Homo sapiens: one gene and its partners. The protein of the gene in region 7 purifies or fractionates together with the protein of the main gene of each other region. This does not show direct contact. Each region holds a gene or a part of one and is shown on either strand. Other genes may lie near its edges.

Region 1 (4,326 bases), on a different chromosome or scaffold from region 7:
GTGGCTCACGCCTGTAATCCCAGCACTTTGGGAAGCCGAGGTGGGCGGATCACCAGAGGTCAGAAGTTTGAGACAAACCTGGCCAACATAGTGAAACCCTGTCTCTACTAAAAATACAAAAAATTAACTGGGCATTGCGGCGGGTGCCTGTAATCCCAGCTACTCGGGAGGCCAAGGCAAGAGAATCTCTTGAACCTGGGAGGTGGACGTTGCAGTGAGTCAAGATGGTGCCACTGCACTCCAGCCTGGGCGACAGAGCGAGACTCAGTCTCAACACACACACACACAGACACACATACACACAATACACATGTGATTGGGGTTGTGGAGAAGCATTGACCATCTGTAAGCCCCTAGAGGGTGGGGGCTATAGGTTATTTGCGTTTTTTACAAGCAGGACCATGTCAGGCATATAATGGATGCCCATACATGTTTGAATCAATATGTAGCCTAATACAGTGATATTGGCAAGACGGGTTTAGAAACATTGTTTTGGTTCAAGATAGAGTTACTGCTTCTTCTACTTCTTAGGTAGGGCTAGAAATCGAATGGAGAATTACTTTCTGTTCATGTATGGGCAAGCGATTCATTGCCAGCCCTGTCAAAGACACATAGAGTTTTTTTTCTCATTGCACACAGGATTTGGGTGATTAGGAAAGTGGAGCGAGTCTACTAATAAACCGTTGTAATAGCACGCAAAGCAAAAATAAATTCAGCGTATTCGTCCCATGCCAATTTAGGAGCATATTTCTCAAATTATGTTTACGTAGGTTTTCCCTAGAGTGAGTGGTTCCCAATCTTGTTTTGTCGGTATTTGCCATCAGTTGTCATTAATTCATTGTTATTAATGGGAAGTGCTCTTTGATCCGTCGGAACCTTGCTCAGTATAGGCCCCAAATGTTCCTTTAAGCCTCGGGGAAAACGACTTTGGCTGGTCGGTGCCCAAAGCCACACCCACTAAGAGGCCTTAGGAAACCTGGGGCTTTCCTGGCGGCGACCTAGCTGTGGCAACCACGCGGCGCGTCGGGATCCCATGGGTCGCGCTTGTTTTCCCCGTGGGAGGCGCGTCCCCCTCCTCCGCCCGGCCGGCCGGCCCTGGACCAGCTGCCTTTCTGGCCGGGACGCCGGGCCCCTTTCCGCACGCGGCGCGCCCCGAGTTCATTTGCATAGGGACGCGCGCGGCGCCGGCGAGAGGGAGGGCGGGCGCGGCCGGGAAGACGGCGCGCGCGCGCCCTGACAGCTCGGCCCTGCTCGCTCACTCGCTCGTCCCCGGCTTCCGAGCACAGCATGGCGGTCAAGGTGACTCCAACTCTCTGCTGCTGCTTTTATTGCATAAGAGACATTCCGAGCGCCCTGCCTGCAGCCCCCCACTGCTTCCCATTTTATTCATTGTCTAGGTCTTAGATAGCTTGTCCTGGGGCTCCGGCTTGCTGCGGGGAGAGCTGTGCGGGGCTTGGACCGGAGGAGGGGATGCCCGGCTGGGGGAGGGGAAGGAGGAGGGATTGTGAGTTGAAGGGGCTTGTACGGTAACACGGGTCAGTGAAGGAAGAGTAATGTCCTGTCCTAGGTGCATGGGATTGTGAGTCCGGAGTTGGAGGGCATCAGAAAGGGTGTGGGAGGAAGTGGCAAGTAAAGCTGGGGATACCTAGGGTATCAGTGAATTGCGGTGGGGGAGGGAGTAAGTATTGAGTAATTTGGGGCCTCAATAAGGCCGAGGGCAGTGGTTGGCTTTTGCGTTGCAGATTGCAGGGTATGGAAAGTATTTGTATTTGTGGCAGCTCTCATATTTTAGGTTGGATGGGGAGAGGGACGCGGAGATAATTACATGTTGGGTTTGCTTTTTATGGAGAAAGGCTGCTAGGCCAAGTGATTAATTTGGGTGATTTAACTTTCCTGTTGATCTACTCTTGTTAGCTTCTTGATTTGAAGGTGGGTGGTTACTACTGTGTTGCTAGTAGATGTGGAATAAAGTAAAAGATCCTCATTGCCTTCCCTTTCCAGTCCAGAGGAAGCACTGTCCGATAGCTTTGCTGTATCTTAGGCTATTCGCACCTGTTTTTCTGCCCTCTAGTCACAGTTATCCAGTTTGACAGTTCTTATCAGCAATTAGGGCTTTTAGTTTGTTTTAAACTAAATGATAAAAGATAGGAGCATTGATTGTTAGCCATGTGACCTCTAATCTGAAGAGATTGTGTGGTCTCTAGTGAAGCATTAACTGGCTTTTTTTTCTTTTTTGCTTACAGGTGCAGACAACTAAGCGAGGGGATCCTCATGAGTTAAGAAACATATTTCTACAGGTAAATTGGCTTGCATAGTGTGCCTTTCATTGCAAAAACAAAAAACGTACATGTCCTTAGTCCTATTCATGCCTTAACTTTGAGGAATGTTCAGTTTTCATGTATTCTTTCAAACATGACCGGACAATATAGCTTATACTTCTCTTAATAAGGTTTGATTTAAGGCCTTCTTTTAATTAAGGGTCGATAAAAGGTTTTCCTCAAGTTACTGCTTTTTTTTTTACATGACTTAAGATATATATTTTGAAAAAAAATTTCCAGCTTAAGCACAGAGACCAAGATAAAATTTCAAAATGTATTGGCATTCTTGTATAGTTAATAGGTATGATGACTAAAATTCTCTTCCTTGAAAGTTGCATGTTTACAAAGTTTTCCTACTTATGAGCTATCCTCCATGTAATTTGTTACAGAGATAAGAATATTATAGCTATTCTTAATTTGTGTGTCTTACTTACATTGTATCCTTAAGCCTTGGGGATTTTACCCCAAAATGTTACCTCTTAAGATTCTTGCAATGGTCTACCTTAACTTCTAAGCTTTTAGAATCAGTGACTTGGCTGTAGACTTAAAAAGAAAAGAAAAAAGAAAAAAAAAAGGTTGGCTTAGTTTTTTGTTTTGCTTTCTTTTCTTAAATTTCAAAAGTTTCCTATGCAGGAAATTGTACTTAAGAAGTAGATGTAGGCCGGGCGCGGTGGCTCACGCCTGTAATTCCAGTATTTTGGGAGGCCGAGGCGGGTGGACCATGAGGTCAGGAGATCGAGACCATCCTGGCTAACACGGTGAAACCCCGTCTCTACTAAAAATACAAAAAATTAGCCGGGCGTGGTGGTGGGCGCCTGTAGTCCCAGCTACTCGGGAGGCTGAGGCAGGAGAATGGCGTTAACCCGGGAAGCGGAGCTTGCAGTGAGTCGAGATCGTGCCACTGCACTCCAGCCTGGGGACAGAGAGACACTGTCTCAAAAAAAAAAAAAAGTAGATGTAAAGGGAGGCAAGCTAAGGTGTTTCACCAAATATTGCATTTCTCTCTGAAATCTTTTGAGAACTTTCTATTCTGGACCTGGGTTCTTATGAAGACACTTTGACCTTGGGCAGGTCCCTGCTGTGTATTATTTTCCTCTGTGAAATGAGAGGTGATCTCCAAGGTTCCTTCCCATTCCAAAAGTCTATGAGTCTATTTTAGGAACAGATTCTAACATATGCTGATGAGCCTGGAATAGATGACATTTTTATTTGAGATATGTGGTTTGCTTAAGCTATTGTTGGGTAAGACGCTGCGTAGTTGAGCATACATATGTGTAGTTTATGAAAAATAATTTGTGAAAATGGGAATCTTAAAGGTCATAATATCTGATAAGGGAAGTATTTTTTTCCAGAACAGAAGTAATTATAATAACAGAAATGGTCCATTTATGACTTGAAACCTTTATTCCTTGCAGGCATTCTTGAAAATAGCCAAAAATATATCGGTATTCACCATACCATGTGATTATAGTCAATTGTTTTGTGAAGAGTTCATGTGATATAGTTAATTTTATGTTCTAGACTAAGTAGATGCGGAAGAAATGAGTTGAAATGCTGCATGATGTAGTGAAAAGAATACTGCCTAGGTATCTGAGTACTGCCTAGGAATACGGAGTTAATTCCCAGCCCTGCATTTATCTGGTTCTTGTACCCTTAGGCTAATCATCTGGCCTTCCTGAGTTTCAGCTTCTCATGTGGGACTCAGTGGGACATAAAGGAATGGGAATTGAGGTCTTTCTAGCTTTAAAAATTCTATGGGAAAAAAATATACTGTGATTCTGTATGGATTTGTTTTTTGTTTTTGAGTGGGGGTAGAGGTGGGTTGGAGGTATGAGGAGAATGGCGAGGACTGTCCCTAGCTCTTTGACAACTTTTTTTTTTTTTTGAGATGGAGTCTCGCTCTGTCGCCCAGGCTGGAATGCACTGGCGTGATCTTGGCTCACTGCAACTTCTGCCTCCGGGGTTCAAGCAATTCTCTTGCCTCCGAGTAGCTGGGATTACAGGCATG
Region 2 (4,560 bases), on a different chromosome or scaffold from region 7:
AATACAGATAATCAGAAGATGAGATAATATTTGGAAGGTTCAAAACAGTGTCTGCCACAAAGTAGCACCCAATAAATTTTGCTATTATTATCAATATACTCTAGCACAGGACTCAAAAATGTTTCCAACTTATGATATATGGTTGACTGTTAAACCTACCTCTCAATAACCTTACTTTCACTTCATTCTCCTATAACTATCAAATATTTTATGCTCTTTCCTTTACTACCTATCTCCAATCCATTATCAACTGTTAATTTTCTCTCCTAACCAACATAAAAAATTATTTATCAGCTAAGCTGCAACATAGCCTTGGTTGATTTCCAAACCCCTAAATCTTCATTCGAATCTTCAATCATCCTTAAAAACCATTTTTAATTTGTCACTCTTGTCCACAGTTGCTTATACCAAGTACAAACTACTGGAATGTCATCCTCATGTCTTGTAATAACCCACATCCCAACTTCTAGTTCACATGATGGCTCAAAACTCACCTCTTTCAGGAAACCTTCCCTGATTCACTCCACGCCACTCAGATTACTTCTCTACTGCAAGTCGCCTCAGCACTTAGGTATTGTTATACTAAGGGCAAATGTGATCACAGTAAACAGCATCACTAAGAAATCGCTTTCACAAAATTGTTTCTAGATCATAAATAATGGTCCATTAGTTAAAATGCTTTGCTGATCTGGTTAACAAGCAAACATGTTACACAGCAAATGCTCTCTTTGGCTTCTGTCCTTGACTCTATAACTCTTCACAAACCTTTTGTCCTATCCTCAAACAGAAACTCTATCTCCCATTTAAATACACTGGAAATATGGTAGTGGGCCACCTTCTTTTCTACTACCTCTTCTCTGACCTCAGTCTCTGCCTCCAGCCTCTATCCACACCCCATAAATAAAAATTCCAAAAGCTTCAAATAGAATAGCAGTGATGCATACATACCATGTCTTTCCTGAGTGAAAAAAAAAAAAAAACCCTCAAGCTACTTAGCTACAAAATTCTTCACAAGGGTAATAAATTTCCCAACAAGCCTAATACATAATCAAACTCCAGAAAATTTATGTGGAATTTTTATGGATAAATTTATGGAATAATTTTGGCCGGCGCGGCAGCTAACGCCTGTAATCCCAGCACTTTGGGAGGCCGAGGCGGATGGATCTCTTGAAGTCAGGGGTTCGAGACCAGCCTGGCCAATATGGTGAAACCCCGCCTCTACTAAAAATACAAAAATTAGCCGGTGCGGTGGGGCATGTCTCTGTAGTCCCAACTACTCGAGAGGCTGAGGCAAGAGCTGATCACTTGAACCTGGGAGGTGGAGGTTGCAGCGAGCCAAGATCGCGTCACTGCACTCCAGCCTGGGCAACAAAGCGAGACACACACACACAAATTTATAAAATAAAAACAAAACAAAACAAAAATTATAAAATAATTTTATGGAAAATGTATGGAATAACAGGGCCTGGGTGGGGTGGCTCACCCCTGTAATCCCAAGCCTTTGAGAGGCCACGGTGGAAAGATCTCTTGGGCCGAGGAGTTTGAGGCTGGAACGAGCTATGATCTCGCCACTGCACTCCAGCCTGGGCGACAGCAAACCCTGTCTCTGTTTACTTTTTAAATTAATTTGAAAAAAATACATCAGGATTGTACTTATACGTTAATTCTCACTTGTATTACTGTAAGAGATCTTGCATCATTTTTATGCTATATTACACATGCCCAACATGACAGCTGAGAAACTCCCCTGGAGGGCAGATTTTCTGAGAGTATCTTCTGATGTTGTCTTTAAACCAACACTTTTTTTTTTAACATAAAGAATTAAGGGATTCCTGACTGCCATCTAGTCAAAAGCAAACAATATGTATGCCATTACTTCGGAGGGAGTGAGTTCTTGTGCTGCTGAGGCAAAACGAGATGAACTGTCACAGGGATGGCAGGAGGGGTGGAGTGTAGGAGGAGGATCAGCCCCAGTAGTGAGAATTAAAAACTCTTTTGAGTATTTGGCCCTCCACTAGCAGTAAATTAACCTTCAAACCTGACCAAGACACTACCTGAGACCCTCCACTCTCCGACACCGCAGAATCAGACAACTGTTCTTGCTCAACTACTCATAAAAGATTCACAGCCTTCACCTACCACACATAAATCTACCGCGTTTGCTGCTTGTATACTTTGTCCTAACAGACCAACTAATGCCTTCTAGTCCAATAGCCTCCCGTCCACACCTCACATAAAACCTTCTCAGCCACCTTCCGGTTTCAGTAGGTGCCTCTTACTCCAGATCCACGTGTCCCCAGTTCTCCAGAGACCTTCACCTTCAAAACCCAAGCCCGTCCCCCCTTCACTCCCAGCTGATCTCCACCCAGGCCCTATCAATCCTTACTTCTAATAGGCCAACCACACTCCCCGGCCCCGCGCCTTCTCCCTCAGCACCCTTTTCTGAGCATCACCTATTTCCCACCACTTTCTTCCTCCCCAGACCCGGAATCCTGCAATCACTAGGCCTCCCTTTGCCGCTACCCTCCCGCGAGCACGCGGAGCCCGCTGCTCGGCTAACCACCCCGCCCCACCTTCGCCACCTCTAGCGGCCTCCCACCCCAGGCGGCTCCCCGGGCTCCGCGGCTGCAAACCAGGCCCCACCGTACGTCCCCCACGCGGTCCCGGCCCTGTGAAGGGCGGCGGCGGGGCAAAGAGGGGCAGAGACCACCCGGGGTGAGGCGGGCGCCCTCACTTCTGGGCGTACCCGGGCGGGGGCGGGGGCGGGACGGCTGGTCGGCGCCCCCGCCTCGGCCAGGCCTGCAGCCCGAGCTCCCGCAACCACTTCCCGAGCCAGGCGAGGAGGAGCCCGCAGCCCGGCCGCTCCCGCTGGCGCACCCCCTTCTCACCTAGACGCAGAGGCTCAGGCCTCGCTCTCCCACTGGCCGTCCAGCAATAGCTGCGCCGCCGCCGCCGCCGCCGTCGCGCTCTCTTCACTCGCTTTTCCACCGCCCGCGACCGGCTGCTGAAGAGCGGACGGGCAGTGGCACGCCCATTGGCTGAGGCCCGCAGTCGCGTCAGCCGGCCCCGACCGCACCTCGCGACGTGACTGGCTGGAGCGGCGCCTCTTTTCGACATCCGCTTTTGATTGGCTCTCGCGCACACCCTTATCCGCAGGACCAGTCATCCTCCTCCCTGCTTTAGCCTCTCACCCCCAACCCGGTTTCCCTCCGGGCGGGAGTGGGGCGGGAGCGGACGCCCGCGGAACGCGAACGGCCAATGGGGGCGCGGAGAGAGGGCCGGGAGGTGGGCCCTGCGGCCGGGAGGCTCGCGGGGGAATGCTCAGCCAATGGGCCCGCGCCCCACATCTCGAGTCCTGGAGCGCCCCCGCCGGCTGCTGGCGTCCTGTCGGGTCGCGCCCAGGGCCACGCCCGGCTGTCCGTCGCGCGGGAGGGGCGCCAACTCCCAAGGTTGGGAGCACGCAGCGAGGCCCGCGCGGGAGACAGCGGGGCTGCCATTGTGGCGTGCTTAGCGCTATTATGGTGGGGCCCGGGGGCCCTCCGGCCATTGCTGGGCGTGAGGGATCCGTTCGGAGAACTACCAGCTTGGCGGGTGTGGCCCGGGTCGGTGAGAGCGAAGAGCTCTACGGACCCCTGGAGCCTCCACGGGTCTCGCCCAGTCCCAGGGGACTGTGGGCCCATTCATTCCACCTTCCACTTCCTCCAAAATAATTCCCTACAAAACTTACCGGTAGTGATAGGAGTTAGAATAACGTTTACTTCTGAGGGGTGGGGCACGAGGGAACCTATGGAAAGCTGGAAACATTGCGTCTTGATCCTGGTGGTCGTTCCGGGCTGTGTACACATGGAGGAATTCATCGAGCCGGACACTTAATAGTATTACCACATTCATACGGCTCATTTTTAAAAAATAATAAAAGGATCATGAGAATTCTGTAATAATATTACCACAATCTTTGGGCTCCGTGGGACTCCATTGTATAAACAGTCCGCATTAGGATTTAGCTGTCATTCAAAACATGCAAGCCATAGGAAGAAAAAAAAAGATTTGTGAGAAGCAAAAATGAGTGAACGCTCTTGGCACGGTGAATAGCATGCACAGGTTGGTATTTAGGGATGGATGGCTCAGAGTGATTTTTCTGTGGGGATTTAGAGCTTGTTTCAGTGCCTGGCCCTGTTAGTAGCTAAAAGCAGTCATAGTGCTGCATCCAGTTGGAAACTACAAAAGCTCACTGAACTGCCTACTTTGTGGCAGATGTTAAGTTCTGGCTCAGGAAACTAATTTGAATGCCATGGCTTCTGCCTCGATGAGCTCACAGTCTTGCAGCAAGTACTGTCATTTCTGGAGGAGGGCACAGAACACAAAGCTAACACACTTGCTTACCCTCAGGGATGTCGCATTCCGCTACTTTAGGCAAGACAGTGTATGCCTGGAACCCATCCAGTCCAATAGCCATAGTCATAAATAGCCAGGATCAGGTGAAACACTTCTTAGAAGTGGGTCAAAATATTCTCCCAAAACAAACGTAAGAACTATGGACCAAATTCTAATCTGTAAAAG
Region 3 (3,798 bases), on a different chromosome or scaffold from region 7:
CTGAGCCTGGTGGAACCAGCTCTTGGCTTTGAGAGAAACCTGTTAGCCCAAAGCCCTTTTTTTTTTTTTTTTTTTTTTTTGAGACAGAGTCTCGCTCTGTCACCCAGGCTGGAGTGCAGTGGCGCAATCTCGGCTCACTCAAGCCCCGCCTCCCTGGTTCACGCCATTCTCCTGCCTCAGCCTCCTGAGTAGCCGGGACTACAGGTGCCCACCACCATGCCTGGCTAAATTATTTATTTATTTATTTATTTATTTAGTATTTTTAGTAGAAACGGGGTTTCACTGTGTTAGCCAGGATGGTCTCGATCTCCTGACCTCGTGATCCACCCGCCTCGGCCTCCCAAAGTGCTGGGATGACAGGCGTGAGTCACCGTGCCCAGCCCCCAAAGCCCTTTTGAATGGAGCGTCAGGGCAGGAAGGAGGCAGGGAGGGTGTGGTCCTGTTCTGCCTGCCTCCGAGCATCTGCCAGGCCTAGGTCAGTTTCTCAGCAAGTGCCTCGGCTTCTGGTGCCTTCAGAGATTTCACCAGAAGTTTCACAGAAATTTCCTCCAGCAGTGAGTGGAAGCTTGTGGATAGCTGGGCACCTGAGGATTTTCAGCCTAAAAGACAAAACAGTCGTTCCCCACGTGGGTCTCCCTGGCATCTGGTTTTGCTTGGAGTTCCTGCTGTCCCTGCCTGCAGATTTTGGGTGGCATTGTCTGTCTTGCAGGGCCATCCAGTCTCGCAGCCTGGGGTGGGTGACGACAGAGCCTCGGGTCCTCTGCCTTTTTCTCGTGACCCTCCGCTGCAGTGCATGCAAGGGCCACACAGGGCTGCCAGCCACCGTCCCCTGCAGCCTGGTTCTGAAATGTCGGCTTGGCAGGCCTGGGTTTGTCTCACCCTCTATTTCATGGCATGCAGCTGTGTCTGGTGTCCACCTCCTCGGCCACCGGCTTGGTGAGCCTGCGTTTTGGGCTCACTTTGTGGGAAAACATCTTCTCACAGCTCGCTCTCAGGGGCTGAGCTGGGGTTGCAGGGAGGGACCTCTGTTGTTAATTTTCCCAGCAGTCTGCACGTTCTCCTTGGCTCTAAGCCGTCACGGTTGCATAGACAAGCAGGCCTGTGGAGCTTCCCTGGCAGGGCACAGGGTAGCCTGGGAACACATCCTGGGTGACAGCAGCACCCATGCAGGGGCCCAGGAAGGAGCGCGGGTGAGGAGCATGGCGGTGCCAGTGCACCATGAGAAAAGGCAGCAGAGGTCAGAACAGGCCACAGGTACCCAAATGATCAGGGGCTGCCCAGGAAGGTGGAAGGTTTGGGACAATGTTTCTCTGCCTCAGAGCCCTGTCTTTAATCTCTGCCACTCCTTACATTTTCTTTTTTTTTTTTTTTTGAGACGGAGTCTTGCTCTGTCACCCAGGGTGGAGTGCAGTGGTGCGATCTCAGCTCACTGCAACCTGTGCTCCCTTGGTTTAAGCGACTCTCCTGTCTCGCCTCCCAAGCAGCTGGGATTTCGGGTGTGTGGCACCACGCCCGGCTAGTTTTTGTATTTTTAGTAGAGACAGGGTTTCGTCATGTTGGACAGGCTGGTCTCCAACTCTTGACCTCAGGTGAACTGCTCAGCTCGGCCTCTCAAAGTGCTGGGATTACAGGTGTGAGCCACCACACCTGGCCCTAAACTTAAATCACCACCAGGCGCGGTGGCTCACGCCTGTAATCCCAGCTACTTTGAGAGGCTGAGGCAGGGGAATCACTTGAACCTGGGAGGCGGAGGTTGCAGTGAACCAAGATCACGCCATTGCACTCCAGCCTGGAAGACAGAGCCAGACCCGTCTCAAAAAATAAAAATAAAAAATAAAATCACCTATATGTGGCCGGGCATGGTGGCTCACGCCTGTAATCCCAGAACTTTGGGAGGCCGAGGTGGGTGGATCACGAGGTCAGGAGATCGAGACCATCCTGGCTAACATGGTGAAACCCCGTCTCTACTAAAAAATACAAAAAATTAGCCGGGCTTGGTGGCGGTTGCCTGTAGTCCCAGCTACTTGGGAGGCTGAGGCAGGAGAATGGCGTGAACCCGGGAGGCGGAGCTTGCAGTGAGCCAAGATCACGCCACTGCACTCTAGCCTGGGTGACAGAGCGACTCTCTGTCTCAAAAAAAAAAAAAATCACCTATGTGTTTTGCTTTCCCCCACCGCCCCTTTTTCTTTTATTTTTTGGAGACAGTCTCACTCTGTTGCCCAGGCTGGAGTGCAGTGGCTTCGTCTCAGCTCACTGCAACCTCCATATCCCAGGTTCAAGCAATTCTCATGCTTCGGCCTCCCGAGTAGCTGGGACTACAGGTGTGCGCGCCACCATGCCCGGCTAATTTTTTATATTTTTAGTAGAGATGGGGTTTTGCCATGATGCCCAGGCTGGTCTTGAACTCCTGAGTTCAGGTGATCCGTTTGCCTCAGCCTCCCAAATGGCTGGGATTACAGGTGTGAGCTATCATACCTGAACTAAATTTAACTTTTTTTTTAAAATTTTTTAATTTTTTATTTAACTTATTTTTTTTTATTTTTTGAGATGGAGTTTCGCTCTTGCTGCCCAGGCTGGAGTGCAATGGTGGGATCTCGGCTCACTGCAACCTCCATCTCCCGGGTTCAAGCGATTCTCCTGTCTTAGCCTTCTGAGTAGCTGGAATTACAGGTGCCCACCATCACGCCCGGCTAATTTTTGTATTTTCAGTAGCAATAGGGTTTCATCATGTTGGCCAGGCTGGTCTTGAACTGCTGACCTCAAGTGATCTGCCCGCCTCGGACTCCCAAAGTGCTGGGATTACAGGCATGAGCCACCACGCAGGCCATGCCTGGAGTTTTTGTTGGGGTATTAATACTTGGGCGGGATTGATTGAAAATCTCCAGTTTCTCAGAAAATCCCAGGAATTCAGTTTCCAGCCCCGGTCCTCCCGCTCCCATCCCCGTGGGCCCCAAAGTGGTGGGTCTTCGCCCTGAGTCCCTTCTTAGCATAAGCCCTCAGGGCCACCATGGAAAACAGAGGCACTCCTTATCACTCAGGAAATCCCAAGGACTTAAGAAGGGACAAAGGTCAGTCCTCTGTTTGGGTAAAGTTAATTCTTCATTGCACATGATTGGACACCTTTGAAGATTACAGGCTTGTAAGTATTGTATAACAAGAGTCAGCAAACTGTGGTCCCTGGGCCAAGTGCAGGGGCCTAGTGTGGCAGCTGTCTGATTTGCAAATAAAGCTTTATTGGAACACAGCCATGCCCATGCATTGCCTGTGACCACTTGGTGCACAGTTGCCCATGTGCTCATGCGTGGCCAGAGTGCCTAAAATAATTACCATCTCATCTTTTACAGAAATATTTCACTGCTTCTTATTTTGTCAGTGTGGGTTTGTCTGATGTTTGCTTGTGGTCATATTCGTCATCTGTTTTGGCAGGAATCACACAGGAGTGACACTGCTTCTGTCCTGCCGGGGGCACATGATTTCGGTTTCCCCCATTTGATTCCCTTGTAATTAGCCGTATGGAGGCAGTTGAGATGATGTGTCTGTTCTCACTGCTCCTCCACCCAGCAGTTTGTTTGTTTCTTTATTTATTTATTGAGACAGTCTTGCTCTGTCACTCAGGCTGGAGTACAGTGGCAACATCTTGGCTCACTTCAGCCTCTGCCTCCTGGGTTCAAGCAATTCTCCCAGCCCCAGTCTCCCCAGTAGCTGGGATTACAGACACCTGCCACCACACCCAGCTAATTTTTTTTTAATTTTTAGTAGAGATGGGGTTTCTCCATGTTGGCCAAGCTGGTCTTGAAT
Region 4 (3,798 bases), on a different chromosome or scaffold from region 7:
TTCACTTGAGGTCAGGAGTTGGAGACCAGCCTGGCCAACATGGTAGAACCCCGTCTCTACTAAAAAATACAAAAATCAGCCGGGTGTGGTGGTGGATGCCTGTAATCCCAGCTACACGGGAGGCTGAGGCAGGAGAATTGCTTGAACCCAGGAGACAGAGGCTGCAGTGAGCCAAGATCATGCCACTGCACTCTACCTGGGTGACAGAGTGAGACTCCATCTCAGAAAAAATAAAATAAAGAAAGAAAAAGAAAAAGAAAACTATAAGGACCATCTGCAAATGGAAAGAAACGCTTATAAATTCTGCTTAACTCAATCCCAGTCTCCATTTATCACAACAAGCTGTAAACAATCCAGAGAGAAACAAAAAGAGTTATACTACTTAACCTCAATCAGAAAATGAGTTGTACAGACATATCCATTTCCTTACATTATTACATTTGTTAATTGAGGTTTTACTCCATTGAAAAAGACTCATTATTTTAAATATCATTAAAAATCCATTACTTATTTTCTCCTGGATCATTTTGCTGCTAGTTAGACACAAAAAAGATTCAAAGATTTCCTTTAAGAACTTACCTTTCTAAGCATTTCATTATCTTGAACATTATTGAGTTCATGTGAACTAATCTCTCCTTTCAGCATATACTCATAAAATTTTCCACTAACATTTACCAGTAAGGTAGTTGGACTTGACTGCACTTCACAGCTCAGGGTCACATTATTTACATCACTCGGAACATGAATGCCATACCGAAGCACAAGGCCCACCAAAAGACCTGGAAAAAAGAACAACATAAGCTCTTCTTGCCGACAGAGACCACTTCTTTTGTACCCCACGCATAACTATGGATAAGAGAAAATCTCTTACGGTAGTTCCCTGTAGCTCAGAACTGATTTTTAGATGAAATGCAGTTATGTTTTAAAATATTACTAAATTCATACAACAAACAGCCCAATCTTCATATAATCCAGTGAAACAGGAGAGAAAAACATTCCCTAGGACAACAGCACAGATCACTGCATTTCTAGATCAATATTTAAATAAGTAATGAGGAAGGTAACAAAAGGAGAAAATATCTTCAAATCATCTGTAGACAGAATATGCTCCAATGTGTCCCAACTCGACAGTGCAATCGTGTTAGAAATGTGTTTTCTGGCCAGGCGCGGTGGCTCATGCCTGTAATCTTAGCACTTTGGGAGGCCGAGATGGGTGGATTGCCTGAGAGCTCAGAAGTTCGAGACCAGCCTGGGAAACTTGGTGAAACCCCAACTCTACTAAGATACAAAAAATCAGCCGGGCGTGGTGGCGGGCGCCTGTAATCCCAGCTACTCAGGAGGCTGAGGTGTGAGAATTGCTTTAACCCAGGAGGCAGAGGTTGCAGTGAGCCGAGATCATGCCACTTCACTCCAGCCTGGGCAACAAAGTGAAACCCTGTCTCAAAAAAAAAAAAAAAGAAATTTGTTTTTCACCTCCATTCATCAATTTATAAGACTTAAACAATGCACTTCGCAAGTTTATTCCCAAAGCACATGACTGGCCAAACAATGCACATTTAACAAATTGAAAAGTCAATAATATTTGTAGGTTGATTGAGTTCTTCTACTTCTAAAAGATCAGATTTTAATTTTAAAAATCTGCTTCAAAATCAAAACATGGAATAGAAGTCCTGAATCTGGCACTATGACATCAAACAGATTGCTGGATCATCCTACTGACATTCAAATATGCACAATGTTCTAGGTACTGTAAAACTAAATTTTTTTTTTTTCTGAGACGAAATTTTGCTCTGTTGCCCAGGCTGGAGTGCAGTGGCATGATCTCGGCTCACTGCAACCTCCGCCTCCCGGGTCCAATCAATTATCCTGCCTCAGCCTCCCAAGTAGCTGGGATTATAGGCTCACACCAACACACCTGGCTAATTTTTGTATTTTTAGTAGAGATGGGGTTTCACCATGTTGGCCAGGCTCCTGACCAAGGTCGAACTCCTGACCTTGTAATCCATCCACCTCGGCCTCCCAAACTGCTGGGATTACAGACCTGAGCCACCATGCCCAGCCCTATAAAACTATATTGATCGACTATAATTGTTTAGTAATGGCTTTACTGATATCTAATTCAAACACCAAAAGTTTATCCTTTTAAAAACTGTACAATTCAGTGGTCTTTAGTGTATTCACAAAGTTGAACATCAATCACCACTATCTAATTCTAGAACATTTTCCTTCCCTCCAAAAAGAACCCCACACCTACTAGCAGTCACTCTCCATTCCCCCATGCCCGAATCCACAGCCCCTGGCAACCACTCATCTACTTTCTTTCTTTATGGACCTGTCTTTTCTAGACATTTCATATAAATGAACTCCTACAATATATGGCCTTTTGTGTCTGACTTCTTTCACTTAGCATATTTTCAAGGTTTATCTATGTTGTAGCATGCATCAGAACCTCATTTACTTTTACGACCAAACGATATTTCATTGTATGGACATACCTCAACTACAAATAAAACCCAAACTTCTGGAACTTTCCTTAACTCCATGCATAGTATACCACTACTAGCTGCATTTTACCTTCCTATTGCCTTTCATTCTGACTAGCCAGCCATTCTTTTAATACGTGAATGAGTGTACTATGCTAGGTAGGCCTCCAGGGTTCAGAGATGAAAACAAGGTCCCTCCTTCAAGGAAAACTCGGTCCAGTTGGTGAAAACAGACTGAATAAACAATCATAATGTCAAGGAAAACTCGGTCCAGTTGGTGAAAACAGACTGAATAAACAATCATAATGCTATATATATATATGTATACAAGGTATTATAAAAACAGAAAAGAGACAACTATGCAACCCTGGGGGAGTAAGACATTAGGGAAGTCTTTCCAGAGATGTCACCTGGGCAGGTAACAAACTAGAAGAAATGGGTATATTCCACGTAGGGGAATAGTAGTACATATCAGTCAAGGATGGAGACAACACAGCCCATCCAGTGAATCAAGTAGTTTAGTATGGCTGGCTTATAAAGTGACAAGAGTTGAGGTTTGAAAGATTGGCAGGAGTTGAATCATAAAAGATCTTATCTGTTGGGGAAGGGAATTTGAAGTTTATCCCAAAAGTAAAATGAAGTCATAGAAGGCAGAGGCTTGATAGCAGATTTCTACTTTAGAAAGACTGGTCTAGACTAAAGAGGGTCTAAAAGGCTAGATACAGGGCTACTGTAGGCATTCAGGCAATAAGAGTTTAGGTCCTAACCTAAGAGAGTACTGACAGGAGGCGAGAAGGATTTTTTGAAGGTATTATATTTTAGGAAGATTTAGTGACTGAGGAAGGGAGATGAAAGACTAAGAGGAACCTTAATTGATTTGGTAACCAGGTGGGTAAGTTGGCCTGAGCACCGAGGGGGATAACAAGGACATTCAATGAGGTAAGGAACATACACAGATGAACAGATTTACAGGGGAAAAGGCTACATTCAGTTTTGGACACGTTGAGTTGGATGTACTTGTGACACACGCATAGTTGAGTATGTGGTATCTGGAGCTAAAGCGAGGGGTCTCAACTGGAGATATACACTGTGCAGTCATAAGATGGTTGAAGTCAGATGTAGATGAGATCGCCAGGGGAGCAAGTAAAATGGGAAGAAGACTATGATATAGATCTGGGGTTTGATCTATTAACAGCCAACATTAAGGGGCTGCTAGAGGAGAAGGAGCTGATGAAGGAGTCTGAGAAGGAAAACCCACAGGAGTAGAAAAAAAAAGGAACCAGTGGTGGCAAAGTCAGGAAGAAAGGGAAAAAAT
Region 5 (3,798 bases), on a different chromosome or scaffold from region 7:
ATTCCCAAAAGAAATGGATAATAACCTAAGATTCCAGCCATCAGAGCACTGGAAGTTTTTAAAGCCTTTTATTTTTCTGTAACTTCTCCTGTTAATTTTGGTATCTGTTGTTAGTCTGTATAAAGTCCCTAAGTCATGGCATGGTATCAAACAGGATTGTTACTTGGCAAACAAAAAGTTTTATTTATTTATTATTATTATTTTTTTTTTTTTCCTGAGACGGAGTTTCGCTCTTGTTGCCCAGGTTGGAATGCAGTGGCACAATCTCGGCTCACTGCAACCTCCACCTCCCAGGTTCAAGCGATTCTCTTGCCTCAGCCTCCCAAGTATCTGGGATTACAGGCATGCACCACCATGCCCAGCTAATTTTGTATTTTTAGTAGAGATGGGGTTTCTCTGTGTTGGTCAGGCTGGTTTTGAACTCCTGACCTCACACGATCCACCTGCCTCGGCCTCCCAAAGTAAAAGTTTTATTTTTTATATCTTTATGTATGGGATAACCCAACACATTTTGTTAAAAAGGACATTTTGAAAATCATTTCTGAAGCTGATAAAAGACATTTGGGAACCTGTCGCTTTGGGGATGTGTGGGTGTGTGGAGCCCTGGAACTGTCCCGGGCTGGCTGTAGCACTGTCAGGGCACCTGTCAGGCCAGCAGTGAGTCTCGTGTGGGAACATGAGCTTGAGGTTCTTCTTTGTATCTCACTCTAGATGGGATGCATAAAACAAAACCTGAAATAATCAGATTTGCTGAAAATAACTACAGAGTAGAATTTAAAACTTGAGTATGTTGAGGGAAGGAATATATATATCTGGGAGAGAATGGATACGTTTTGTTTTTCTGAAATGGAATTAGAAAGATGTTCAGTTGTCTTGTGCATTCTTGCAAACCTTGCAGTTTTGAGAGCCCTGTTTCTGCCTTGTATCATTTTCCACTGTGTATCTGATTCTAGGAGCGTGAACAGGGAGACAAAGGTGAAGTTTGTGCACACCTCTGTCCATGGGGTGGGTCATAGCTTTGTGCAGTCAGCTTTCAAGGCTTTTGACCTTGTTCCTCCTGAGGCTGTTCCTGAACAGAAAGATCCGGATCCTGAGTTTCCAACAGTGAAATACCCGAATCCCGAAGAGGGGAAAGGTGTCTTGGTAACCTAATTTTTTTTTAAATTATGAAATCTGCTTTTATATTCAAAACTATTACTGTCAAGTAAAATACATTTTTATGTGTTTTCATTGTGCTGAAGAAAAACTAATTTCAGCATGGAAATATGTATGTTTGGCTGGGTGCAGCGTCTCATGTCTGTAATCCCAGCACTTTGGGAGACCAAGGCAGGCAGATCACTTGAGGTCAGGTGTTCGAGAACAGCCTGGCCAACATGGCAAAACCCTGTCTCTACTAAAAATACAAAAATTAGCTGGGTGTGGTGGTACATGCCTGTAATCCCAGCCACTTGGGAGGCTGAGGCGCTAGAATTGTTTGAACCTGAGAGATGGAGGTTGCAGTGAGCTGAGATTGCACCACTGCACTCCAGCCTGGGTGACAGGGTGACAGAGCGAGACTTTGTCTCAAAAAAAAAAAAAAAAAAAACAAGAAGTATGTATATTTGTTAGTCATTAATTTCTTAAAGGATCTTTCAAATTAAACACCCCAGGATCAGGATATGAGAACTGAGCTCTAAATGGTGCTTCAAATTCAGTTAATTTAATTTAATTTAATTTGCCGTGTCTCCTTAATGCCAAAAAGAAGCAGTAATAGAGTGAAACTTTAGCAGGTTATGATTTTTATTTCTTGTCATTTTTCTGATATGAAGTGTTGCTTACATTATGGTTTCTGTAACATTTTTAAAGGTTGGGGTAGCAGTGGCATTCAGAGAATCAGTTTATTTTGTTTTATTTGTGAGGCTGATCACACAGCAATGCCCCGAAATACCAGTCCAACCACAGACCTACTGGCGCATGTGCAGCAGGCACACTGGTAGGCTTGGGTCACACACCGATGCTCCCATTATCTGACCTCTGACTTAGGAAGATACTATGTGACCAACCAAGACCAGCTGCAGCTTTTGTTTGCTAAATTTCACTTCTGGAGCTGTCTTGGTTGGTCCTATATTATCTTTCTAAGAGGGGAAAGACCTCTTGAGTTCTTAAGGAACTGAATGTTTTTAAAGACTATCATATGCTCGATTCTTGATTAAATAATCTTTTATTTTCATATTCTTCTTCAGACTTTGTCTTTTGCTTTGGCTGACAAAACCAAGGCCAGAATTGTTTTAGCTAACGACCCGGATGCTGATAGACTTGCTGTGGCAGAAAAGCAAGACAGGTAAAATTAATTGTGATTACCTATATTATAGAACATATAAAGGATGATCTCTTCATTGGTAAAATGTTTCTGGGGAGACGGGACCTATTTGGAAACATTTCCCATTTATTTTGCAAATGATCATTTCACTGAACCTCCTGTAGAGTCTTCTAATGGAGAGCAAGATAGAGATCTAGTGTGGGGGGAGGTTACGTGATTGGCAAGCATAATGCAGAGTAAATCAACCCAGTATATATTTCAAATTGAAACTCCTATTTGGGAACTTCTCATTTTGTAATTGATCTTTTTATAAGTAATGTCTCAGTGTCTAATGAGGGTAAAGCACTTTGGTGCTAGCTGTATGCTTCAGTATTTGCTGAGGGGTTTAGGAGGGAGCAGTACCTTCAAGGAGATGCTGAATTTAGTTTGGACAGACCAGGGAGGAATTCCTGTGGGGTATCGGCACAGTGTTTAAGACAAGTCTGACCAGAGAGTTTGTACAAAGGAGAAGTAAGTACGTGGGGCTAAAGTTGAAAGGTAGGCAGGGCCCAAGCAATTTTGGGCGTCAGGTAGCCTATGTGATGTTTTGGGGGCAGGAGGGTGCTGCTGCTGAAATGGTAGGGTTTTCAGATTGTGATAAAACAGGTTCCATTCTATATCAGTGTTGAGAAAGTTAAGCTAAGATGATACGTCCTGATAGGTGAGATTTACTTCTAGCCATCTGGACTGCCAAGAGAAGCAGAAATTACACATCTTTTCTCTGATGTTCTGACCATTTAGGACTGAGCTTGATCTTAAGGGGTACTGAGCTGTCCCCTCTCAGAATCAGCAATACTGACCAGTCCAGAAATTGAGATAGCAAAACTTACTCTATATATGGGGGATCTTGCCAGCATATTTGTTATATTTAAAACCAAAGGCTTTGCCAAAGATTAATATAGAGCCATTGTGTGTCATGTGTGACATACTTATTTTATACAGTCTTCAAAGACAGGATGTCTGTTCAGGCAAACTGGCTGATATATATGGTAGCTGCTCAGATGTTTGTAAAATGGCAGTTACATTTCTGACCAGTTATTTAAAGATGATGAATAACAAGAACAGCCTTGCAGAAAATACTTAGATGCTTTGTTTGCTAAATTGTTTTATCCCCATGACACTTTAGAGTCTTCCTTAAGATTATGGAAATGAATGGTGGTTGTTGTTTTTTTTTTCTTTCAGTGGTGAATGGAGGGTGTTTTCAGGCAATGAGTTGGGGGCCCTCCTGGGCTGGTGGCTTTTTACATCTTGGAAAGAGAAGAACCAGGATCGCAGTGCTCTCAAAGACACGTACATGTTGTCCAGCACCGTCTCCTCCAAAATCTTGCGGGCCATTGCCTTAAAGGAAGGTTTTCATTTTGAGGTAGGGTGTTTCTGGGACTCACTCATTTTCCTTTCATCTGCTCTGTAGAAGATCTAAGGCATGTCTTTCTCTTTTGGATTATCCCTTTAGGAAACAT
Region 6 (3,798 bases), on a different chromosome or scaffold from region 7:
ATGGTAAGATAGAGTTCAGTGGGACTTTTCCAGCAAGACTTTCTTAGACTCATAATTACGTTGAGGAGAAGAATATAAGAAGAGACATATACAGTGATAAAAACTTTAAATGAATTTCTAGAGTTTAAGAGAAACTTTTCAGGCCTTGGAGAATTTTTGAAGTGGTGTACGAAATAAGGAGAGGGATTTTCCCCTGCATACCCAAATTTTCTCTTGTGATTACAGTTCCATTTTCAAACTATCTTTTCTTTGGTTGGATTTTACCTTTATTTTTCAAGGTTTTTCTTTATGAAATGACATTAGTTAACCAGAGTGTGGCTTGGCAGCACTTGATACAGTATTTAATAAGATCTTATAGGTGATATTTATTTATATTGTCTTCAGCTAAAGCTATCCTATTGAAAAGTGGTCCAAAGATCATAACTGAGTGAAAGTAATATATAGTAAAGCATGGCCCTATTTATCTGGTCCCTGATTTCTTCACATCATTTTGCTTGTAAGATAGCAATATAGCCTAGTTGTTAAGAAAATAGACTCTAAAACCAAGTTTCTCTACTTTCTAGCTCTATAACCTTGGCAAGAAACTTAACTTCTCTGTGCCTCAGTTTCCTCATTTTATTTTTATTATTATTATTATTTTTTTTGAGATGGAGTTTTACTCTTGTTGGAGTAAAGGCTGGAGTGCAATGGTGCCATCTTGGCTCACCACAACCTCCGCCTCCTGGGTTCAAGCAATTCTCCTGCCTCAGCCTCCCAAGTAGCTGGGATTACAGGCATGCGCCACCACGCCCAGCTAATTTTTGTATTTTTAGTAGAGACAGGGTTTTGCCACGTTGGCCAGACTGGTCTCGAACTCCTGACCTTAGGTGATCCGCCCACCTCCGCCTCCCAAAGTGCTGGGATTACAGGCTTAAGCCACCATGCCCAGCAGTTTTGTCATTTTAAAATGAGTTTGTTGGCCAGGGACAGTGCACACCTGTAATCCCAGCGCTTTGAGAAGCCAAGACAAGCAGATCACTTGAGCATAGGAGTTTGAGGAAAGCCTAGGCAACATAGTGAAACCCTGTCACTACCAAAAATACAAAAAATTAGCTGGGTGGTGTGCACCTGTAGTCACAGCTACTTGGGAGGCTGAGGAGGGAGGATGGCTTGAGACTGGGAGGCAGAGGTTGCAGTGAGCTTGTGAGCTCAGACCGCTGCACTCCAGCCTGGGCGATGGAGCCAGACCCTGTCTCAAAAAAAAAAAAAAAAAAAAAAAAGCTGGGCGTGGTGGCTCACGCCTGTAATCCCAACACTTTGGGAGGATCACAAGGTCAGGAGATCGAGACCATCCTGGCCAACATGGTTAAACCCAGTCTCTACTAAAAATAACAAAAATTAGCTGTGCATGGTGGCGCGTGCCTGTAATCCCAGCTACTCGGGAGGCTGAGGCAGGAGAATCGCTTGAACCAGGGAGTTGGAGGTTGCAGTGAGTGGAGATCATGCCACTGCAGCCTGGTGACAGAGCGAGACTCCATCTCAAAAAAAAAAAGTTTGTTGATAACAGTACCTACTTTCTAGGATTGTTGTATTACATGCATAGTGCTTGGTAGGTAGAAAGTGTTTGCTACATACTGTACTAGCTGTTAATCATCTTATTGCACAGGAGAACCTCCAAAGCCCTTTTCTGAACTGCATGCTAAAGAGGTCCCAGCATATTCGTCACTTACGACTTCCTTGTGTAAACTCTTGTATATTATGATCATTGGTGATCAATGCCATATACAAGATTCTGTTAAAAATTTTCGAAGTAGCAGAAGCCCTAGGTAGTTAACTTCTTTTGTGGTTAGGAAGAACTGGAACAAATGATACATTTATTGAAACTGAGTTATTAAGTTGCAGGGGAAAAGAAGTTGTAAAAACTTACCCAGGGCTAAAGTGTAAGTTATAGTTGCAGGTGGGATGTAAGATGAACCATGATTACTTGCAGTCTGTATTACTTGGTAAAGGAAAGAGAGAAGTAAATTCACACTTATTCCACAGGAAGAAATTAGTAAAGAGAGTAATGATAGGAAACAGTCTAGGGGTAGACCCTAAATTTTGGGAAATATTTCGGTGTGAAGTAGAAAATTTGTCAATATATACCCTATAAATACAAAACATTGCATCACAGGTGTAACCCAATTTTTTTCTTTTTTTCCTGAGATAGACTCTCACTGTCACCCAGCCTGGAGTGCAGTGGTGCGATCCCAGCTCACTGCAACCTCCGCCTCCCAGGCTCAGGCGATCCTCCCACGCTCAGGCGACCCTCCCACCTTAGCCTCCTGATTAGCTGGGACCACAGGCACATGCCCCAACAGCTGGCTAACTTTTTGTATTTTTGGTAGAGACAAGGGTTTTGCCGTGTTGCCCAGGCTGGTCTTAAATTCCCAAACCCAAATGATTTGCCCACCTCAGCCTCCCAAAGTGCTGGGATTATAGGCGTGAGCCAATGTGCCCAGCCTAATCCAGATGTTATAGTAGTCACAACTGGGAGAGTTGTTACAAAAATATTGTAGAGTCCTTAAAGGAGAGTTCTAGAAAAGAAATCTGATTTTGAATATACTTCACTTGTTGGGAACAACAAGAATGGTCTTTACTCACATCTTTTCTAAAAATGTCTTTTTTTTAATTACGCCTCTTGTGTTAGAGAGGGAGATCTTTGAAGAATATTTCTGATGCGGTCCTTGAGAGATGGGAAGAGTTTTGTGCCCATGTGAAAAGTCAAAAGAAGTAGTTGCCTATGGAGAGAAAGCAGAATCCTTCATTTCCTTGTGTCACCTAAAAAAACCTGTTACAGGAGCCAAGCTTTGATCTGTATTAAGCAATTCAAATCTGTGTCTTGTTTAATTGCAGGAGGGAACCTGTATGACAAAATCCTTCGTCAGAAGGACAAGTTGTTTGAGGAAGAGGTAATTCATATTTCTGTGGAAGGAAGTTAGAATTGTAGTGTTGTAATTCTTGCATTCTAGTTCTGTATTTACTCTTCCAATAGTGAAGAGTGTTTTTTTCCTTTTGTTCAGACTCCTTCCAGGCTCTGATATTCATGAGAAAGGAAACCTCTAACAAGGAAGCTGTCTATAGCTGCTTCCTAAACGTTTTACCTCCACATCATGATTCTCTGTGGGCTTTCTTTCCTGGTTCTATTACTGCGTACTGGTATGCCCAGTTTTCTATAACTTTGCATTCTTCCTGAATTTTCCTACATGTCTGCTTTACCATACTATATATTATAATGACATTGGAACTATTTTATGAGGAACCTGTTTTTTGTGGTTTTTTACCCCTTCACTTTTCTTTGCCTACTCAACCTGCAAGGAAGAGATGTCAAGTCATGTTGAATCATAACTTCTGGTTGCAGTTTTCTTTGTTTTGTTTGTTTATGTGTGTGTGTATTTACTTAAATGGAGCTTTTTGTTTCTAATCCAAATATTTATTTTTTCTCTGCAGATGGTGGTGTGGTACCTATTTCAGATTGTTTCAGCAGTGAGCTGCATCCATAAAGCTGGAATCCTTCATAGGTAAGAAGTAAAAAAAATTATGGATGGATTCTTCCCTACCAATTCAGCCCCTACCGTGGATACCCCCCCAACAACACTTTTATTTTCTTGGTTAAGCAGCCAAGAGTTTTTCCATTGATATCACTAGGAAAGGAAAGTAATGAGCAATATTATTTTCACTCCCTGAGGTTAAACCATGTTTATGATCTAGGAAGAGTCTCCTCAGTAGCCAAGTACTACTGAAGTCATTTTACAGACAAAAATTTTAGAGTTCAGTTTG
Region 7 (3,798 bases):
GGAGGTCGAGGCAGGCGGATCACGAGGTCAGGAGATCGAGACCATCCTGGCTAACATGGTGAAACCCCATCTCTACTAAAAATAAAAAAAAAGAATATTAGCCAGGCATGGTGGCGGGCACCTTTAGTCCCAGCTACTCGGGAGGCTGAGGCAGGAGAATGGCGTGAACCTGGGAGGCAGAGGTTGCAGTGAGCCGAGATGGCGCCACTGCACTCCAGCCTGGGTGACATAGCGAGACTCCCTCTAAAAACAAAATAAAAACAAAACAAAAACTCCTTATCTTCTAATCTCAACATCTGGGTCATCTTGGGGTCAGTCTCCTTATCATCTTTTCGCTTGGAAATGGCAGGCTGGGCTCAGTGGCTCATGCCTGTAATCCCAGCACTTTGGGAAGCTGAGGTGGGTGGATCACTTGAGGTCAGGAGTTCAAGACTAGCCTGGCCAACATGGTGAAACCCCGTCTGTACTAAAAATACAAAAATTTTCCCGGCGTGGTGGTGCATGCCTGTAATCCCAGCTGCTGGAGAGCCTGAGGCAGGAGAATCGCTTGAACCCAGGAGGCAGAGGTTGCAGTGAGCCTACATCACGCCATTGCACTCCAGCCTTGGTGACAAGAGCGAGACTCTGTCTCAAAAAAAAGAAAACGGCTTCACTTTCCTGTTTCTTTGTATTTTGAGTTAGTTTGGATTGTTTCTTGGATATTGGGATATAGGAATAAGATGTGGATACTCTGGATTCTATCATATAGTTCCAAAGAGTGTTGAGTTTCGTGTTTTGGTAGCTTAGTTGGAATTAGTTTTTTTGGTTTTTCTGTTTTTATTTTTATTTTTTTGTAGAGATGAGGTCTTGCTATGTTGCCCAGTCTGGTCTTCAACTCTTGAACTCAAGCGATCCTCCTGACTCGGCCTCCCAATGTGCTGGGACTACAAGCGTGAACCACTGTGCCTGGCTTCTTGCTGATTTACAGACCATACATGCACCCCCAGCAAAAGATTTAAAAACTAATCTTCAGCCAGGGCAACACACTGAGACCTTGTCTCTAACAAAAATTAGCTGGGTGTGATGAATGACCACACTCCCAGCTACTCTGGAGGCTGAGGTGGGAGGATGGCTCGAACCAGGGAGGTCAAAACTGCAGTGAGCTGTGGTCGTGCCACTGCACCCAGCCTGGGTGACAGTGCAAGAACCCATCTCAAAACAAAAACAACAACAAAAACATACATCTCCCAGCAAGAGATTAGGGCAGAGTTGATACACAGAATTCGGGACTCCTCGCTCTGGCTCTCCCCTCTTTGGAATATCCCCCCTCACTTCCCGGCAGCTTTGGTCACCTTGGACTCTATCCTGTGGCTCTTCAAGCACAATTTCAGTCTGCCCTCAGGCTGAAAGTTTTCAAAACCATTTTCAAAAACACCGAGAGAGTGTTCTGCCACTCTCCTAAGTGGTCACTCCCTCCAGAATCTGCCCAGTGCCTTCAGATAATTGTTTGTTTCTTGTCCAGCCAGCGTATGTAGTTGTCCGTGGGAGGGTTGGCCCTTTAGGACTGAACCAGAAGCAAAATATTTCATACACTGATTTCTGCACAGGGCCCAGAGCCTGGTGCTGGGAACCCAGTCTTGACTAGGACAGTCCCAGGCCCTGTTGTCATGGCGTTCCCAACTCAGTGGGGAAGACAGACAGTAAACTATTTCTTTCTGTTTTGTCCATTAACATATTCCCAGGTCCCTTTCTTTCTTTCCCTCCCCTTTCTCCCTCCCCTCCCTCCCTCTCCTCCCTTCCTCCTTCCCCTCCCTCCCTCTCCTCCCTTCCTCCTTCCCCTCCTTCCCCTCCTTCTCCCTCTCCTCCCTGTCCTCCCTCTCCATCCTTGCTGAGGGCCCTGGTCCCTCTGGCTAAGATTAGGCCTAGATATTTGACCTGCTGTAGGCAAAGCTGGGCCTTTGACCTAGACACCTTGTACCCTTGATTAGCGAGAAAGTTCAAGAGATCTAGAGTAGCCTGCTGGCTCGAGGCTTCTGAACTGGGAGCCAAAAGTAAATCATCCATATATTGAAGGACCAGAGTGCCTGGACTTGAGAAGTGGCCTAGATCTTGGGCCAGTGCCTGACCAAACAGATGAGGCCTATCCCTAAACCCTTGGGGCAAGACCGTCCACATAATTTGGGACGTGTGGTCTGTGGGATCCTCAAAGGCAAAGAGAAACTGGGAGTCAGAGTGTAGGGGAATACAGAAGAAGGCATCCTTGAGGTCTAGAACTGTGAACCATTCTGCTGCCTCTGTTATTTGAGAGAGCAGGGTATAGGTGTTGGTTACAGCTGGATATAGAGAAATTACTGCCTCATTGATGAGTCTAAGATCTTGCACTAGTCTCCACTGACCATTTAGTTTTTGTACTCCTAGAATTGGGGTGTTGTAGGGACTGCTGCATTTCCTTACTAAGCCTGGAGCTTTTAAATGTTTAACAATATTCTGTAATCGTTTATGAGCTTCAGGCTTTAAGGGATATTGCCTTTGATAAGGAAAAGCAGTGGGATCTTTTAACCTGATTTGTAATGGGCGGGCATTTTTTGCCCTTCCAAATTGTCCTTCCAATGCCCAGACTTCAGGGTTGATTCCCTCCACAAGTAGGGGGACAACAAATGGGTAACTTGTTCCCCATATTGATGTAGATAATAGCTCCAGCCTTGGCTAATATGTCCCTGCCTAATAAGGGTGTGGAACTTTCAGGCATAATAAGAAAGGCATGTGAAAAGAGCAAAGTCTCCCAATTACAACTGAGAGGTGGGAGAAATACCTGGTTACAGGCTGTCCCAGGATTCATCGGATGGTAACAGACCTTGAGGACAGTCGTCCAGGACAGGAGATTAACACTGAGAAGGCCGCGCCAGTGTCCAGGAGGAAGTCAGTTTCCTGGCCCTCAATGGTTAAACGTACCCGGGGCTCAGTGAGGGTGATGACATGAGCTGGCGCTTGCCCCGGGCACCCTCTGTCCTGTTGTTGGATCATCTGGTTGGGGGCTTCTGACCTAGGGAACCTTCGTCCGCTGGGGCAGTGCACCTTCCAGTGATTGCCTCGGCATAGTGGACATGGACGAGGGGGCAGCTTGTTTCTCATTGGACAATCTTTTTTAAAGTGTCCTAGTAAACCGCATGATAACAAGCCCTACCGGGTGATTGGCCTCTACTATCTGTCCTCTCTGAACCACTAAGGTTTGTTAGTCTGAGGGCCATAACTAAGGCTGCGGCCTTTCTCCAATCTCACTTTTCCTTTTGGGCCTGTTCCTCTTGGTCCCTATTATAGAACACTGAGGTTGCCAGGTTTTGATAATGCCTCCAAATTTTGTTCAGGGCCCAGGGCTTGCTTTTGGAGCTTTCTCCTGATATCTGCGGCTGATTGGATAATAAACTTATCTTTTAGAATCAATTGACCCTTGAGTGATTCGGGTGACCGGGGAGTATATTTTCTTAAGGCCTCCTATAGCTGCTCGAGGAAGGCAGAAGGATTTTCTTCCTTTCCCTGAGTTATGGTGGACATCATTGAATAATTCATGGGCTTTTTCTAATTCTCCTTAGTCCTTCTAGAACACAGGTCAACAGATGTTTACGACTCCAGTCCCCATGATCTAAGTCAAGGTCCCAGTGGGGATCCATACTGGGGATGGCTTGCTGACCGATAGGGAATTTGTCCCTTTCTTCAGGTGTCATTCTATCATTTACTTGATTAAGATTCCAGGTATCTCCAAACTCTCAGGCTGCAGCTAAAGCTGCATTCTTTTCATTAAAGGCCAGGGTTTGATCTAAC

What was found.
Region 1: the proteins of ECH1 (region 7) and SLC25A12 purify together in Homo sapiens (co-immunoprecipitation; one large-scale study listed by IntAct). This does not show direct contact.
Region 2: the proteins of ECH1 (region 7) and FAR1 purify together in Homo sapiens (co-immunoprecipitation; one large-scale study listed by IntAct). This does not show direct contact.
Region 3: the proteins of ECH1 (region 7) and ADCK5 purify together in Homo sapiens (co-immunoprecipitation; one large-scale study listed by IntAct). This does not show direct contact.
Region 4: the proteins of ECH1 (region 7) and SLC9A6 fractionate together in Homo sapiens (co-fractionation; one large-scale study listed by BioGRID). This does not show direct contact.
Region 5: the proteins of ECH1 (region 7) and PGM2 fractionate together in Homo sapiens (co-fractionation; one large-scale study listed by BioGRID). This does not show direct contact.
Region 6: the proteins of ECH1 (region 7) and NEK9 purify together in Homo sapiens (co-immunoprecipitation; one large-scale study listed by IntAct). This does not show direct contact.

Annotation. Positions count from the first base shown.
Region 1 is NC_000002.12:171,891,176-171,895,501, reverse strand, and holds the start of SLC25A12 (electrogenic aspartate/glutamate antiporter SLC25A12, mitochondrial), read left to right. Parts: upstream 1-1,257; 5' UTR 1,258-1,287; coding exon 1,288-1,299; intron 1,300-2,243; coding exon 2,244-2,297; intron 2,298-4,326. UniProt on the Homo sapiens protein: Mitochondrial electrogenic aspartate/glutamate antiporter that favors efflux of aspartate and entry of glutamate and proton within the mitochondria as part of the malate-aspartate shuttle.
Region 2 is NC_000011.10:13,667,135-13,671,694, reverse strand, and holds the start of FAR1 (fatty acyl-CoA reductase 1), read right to left. Parts: upstream 3,028-4,560; 5' UTR 2,889-3,027; intron 1-2,888. UniProt on the Homo sapiens protein: Catalyzes the reduction of saturated and unsaturated C16 or C18 fatty acyl-CoA to fatty alcohols. It plays an essential role in the production of ether lipids/plasmalogens which synthesis requires fatty alcohols.
Region 3 is NC_000008.11:144,383,831-144,387,628, forward strand, and holds part of ADCK5 (uncharacterized aarF domain-containing protein kinase 5), read left to right. Parts: intron 1-3,798. UniProt on the Homo sapiens protein: The function of this protein is not yet clear. It is not known if it has protein kinase activity and what type of substrate it would phosphorylate (Ser, Thr or Tyr).
Region 4 is NC_000023.11:135,991,767-135,995,564, reverse strand, and holds part of SLC9A6 (sodium/hydrogen exchanger 6), read right to left. Parts: intron 780-3,798; coding exon 580-779; intron 1-579. UniProt on the Homo sapiens protein: Endosomal Na(+), K(+)/H(+) antiporter. Mediates the electroneutral exchange of endosomal luminal H(+) for a cytosolic Na(+) or K(+).
Region 5 is NC_000004.12:37,843,411-37,847,208, forward strand, and holds part of PGM2 (phosphopentomutase), read left to right. Parts: intron 1-953; coding exon 954-1,143; intron 1,144-2,222; coding exon 2,223-2,320; intron 2,321-3,520; coding exon 3,521-3,701; intron 3,702-3,791; coding exon 3,792-3,798. UniProt on the Homo sapiens protein: Catalyzes the conversion of the nucleoside breakdown products ribose-1-phosphate and deoxyribose-1-phosphate to the corresponding 5-phosphopentoses.
Region 6 is NC_000014.9:75,120,251-75,124,048, reverse strand, and holds part of NEK9 (serine/threonine-protein kinase Nek9), read left to right. Parts: coding exon 1-3; intron 4-2,874; coding exon 2,875-2,930; intron 2,931-3,468; coding exon 3,469-3,539; intron 3,540-3,798.
Region 7 is NC_000019.10:38,825,082-38,828,879, reverse strand, and holds part of ECH1 (delta(3,5)-Delta(2,4)-dienoyl-CoA isomerase, mitochondrial precursor), read left to right. Parts: intron 1-3,798. UniProt on the Homo sapiens protein: Isomerization of 3-trans,5-cis-dienoyl-CoA to 2-trans,4-trans-dienoyl-CoA.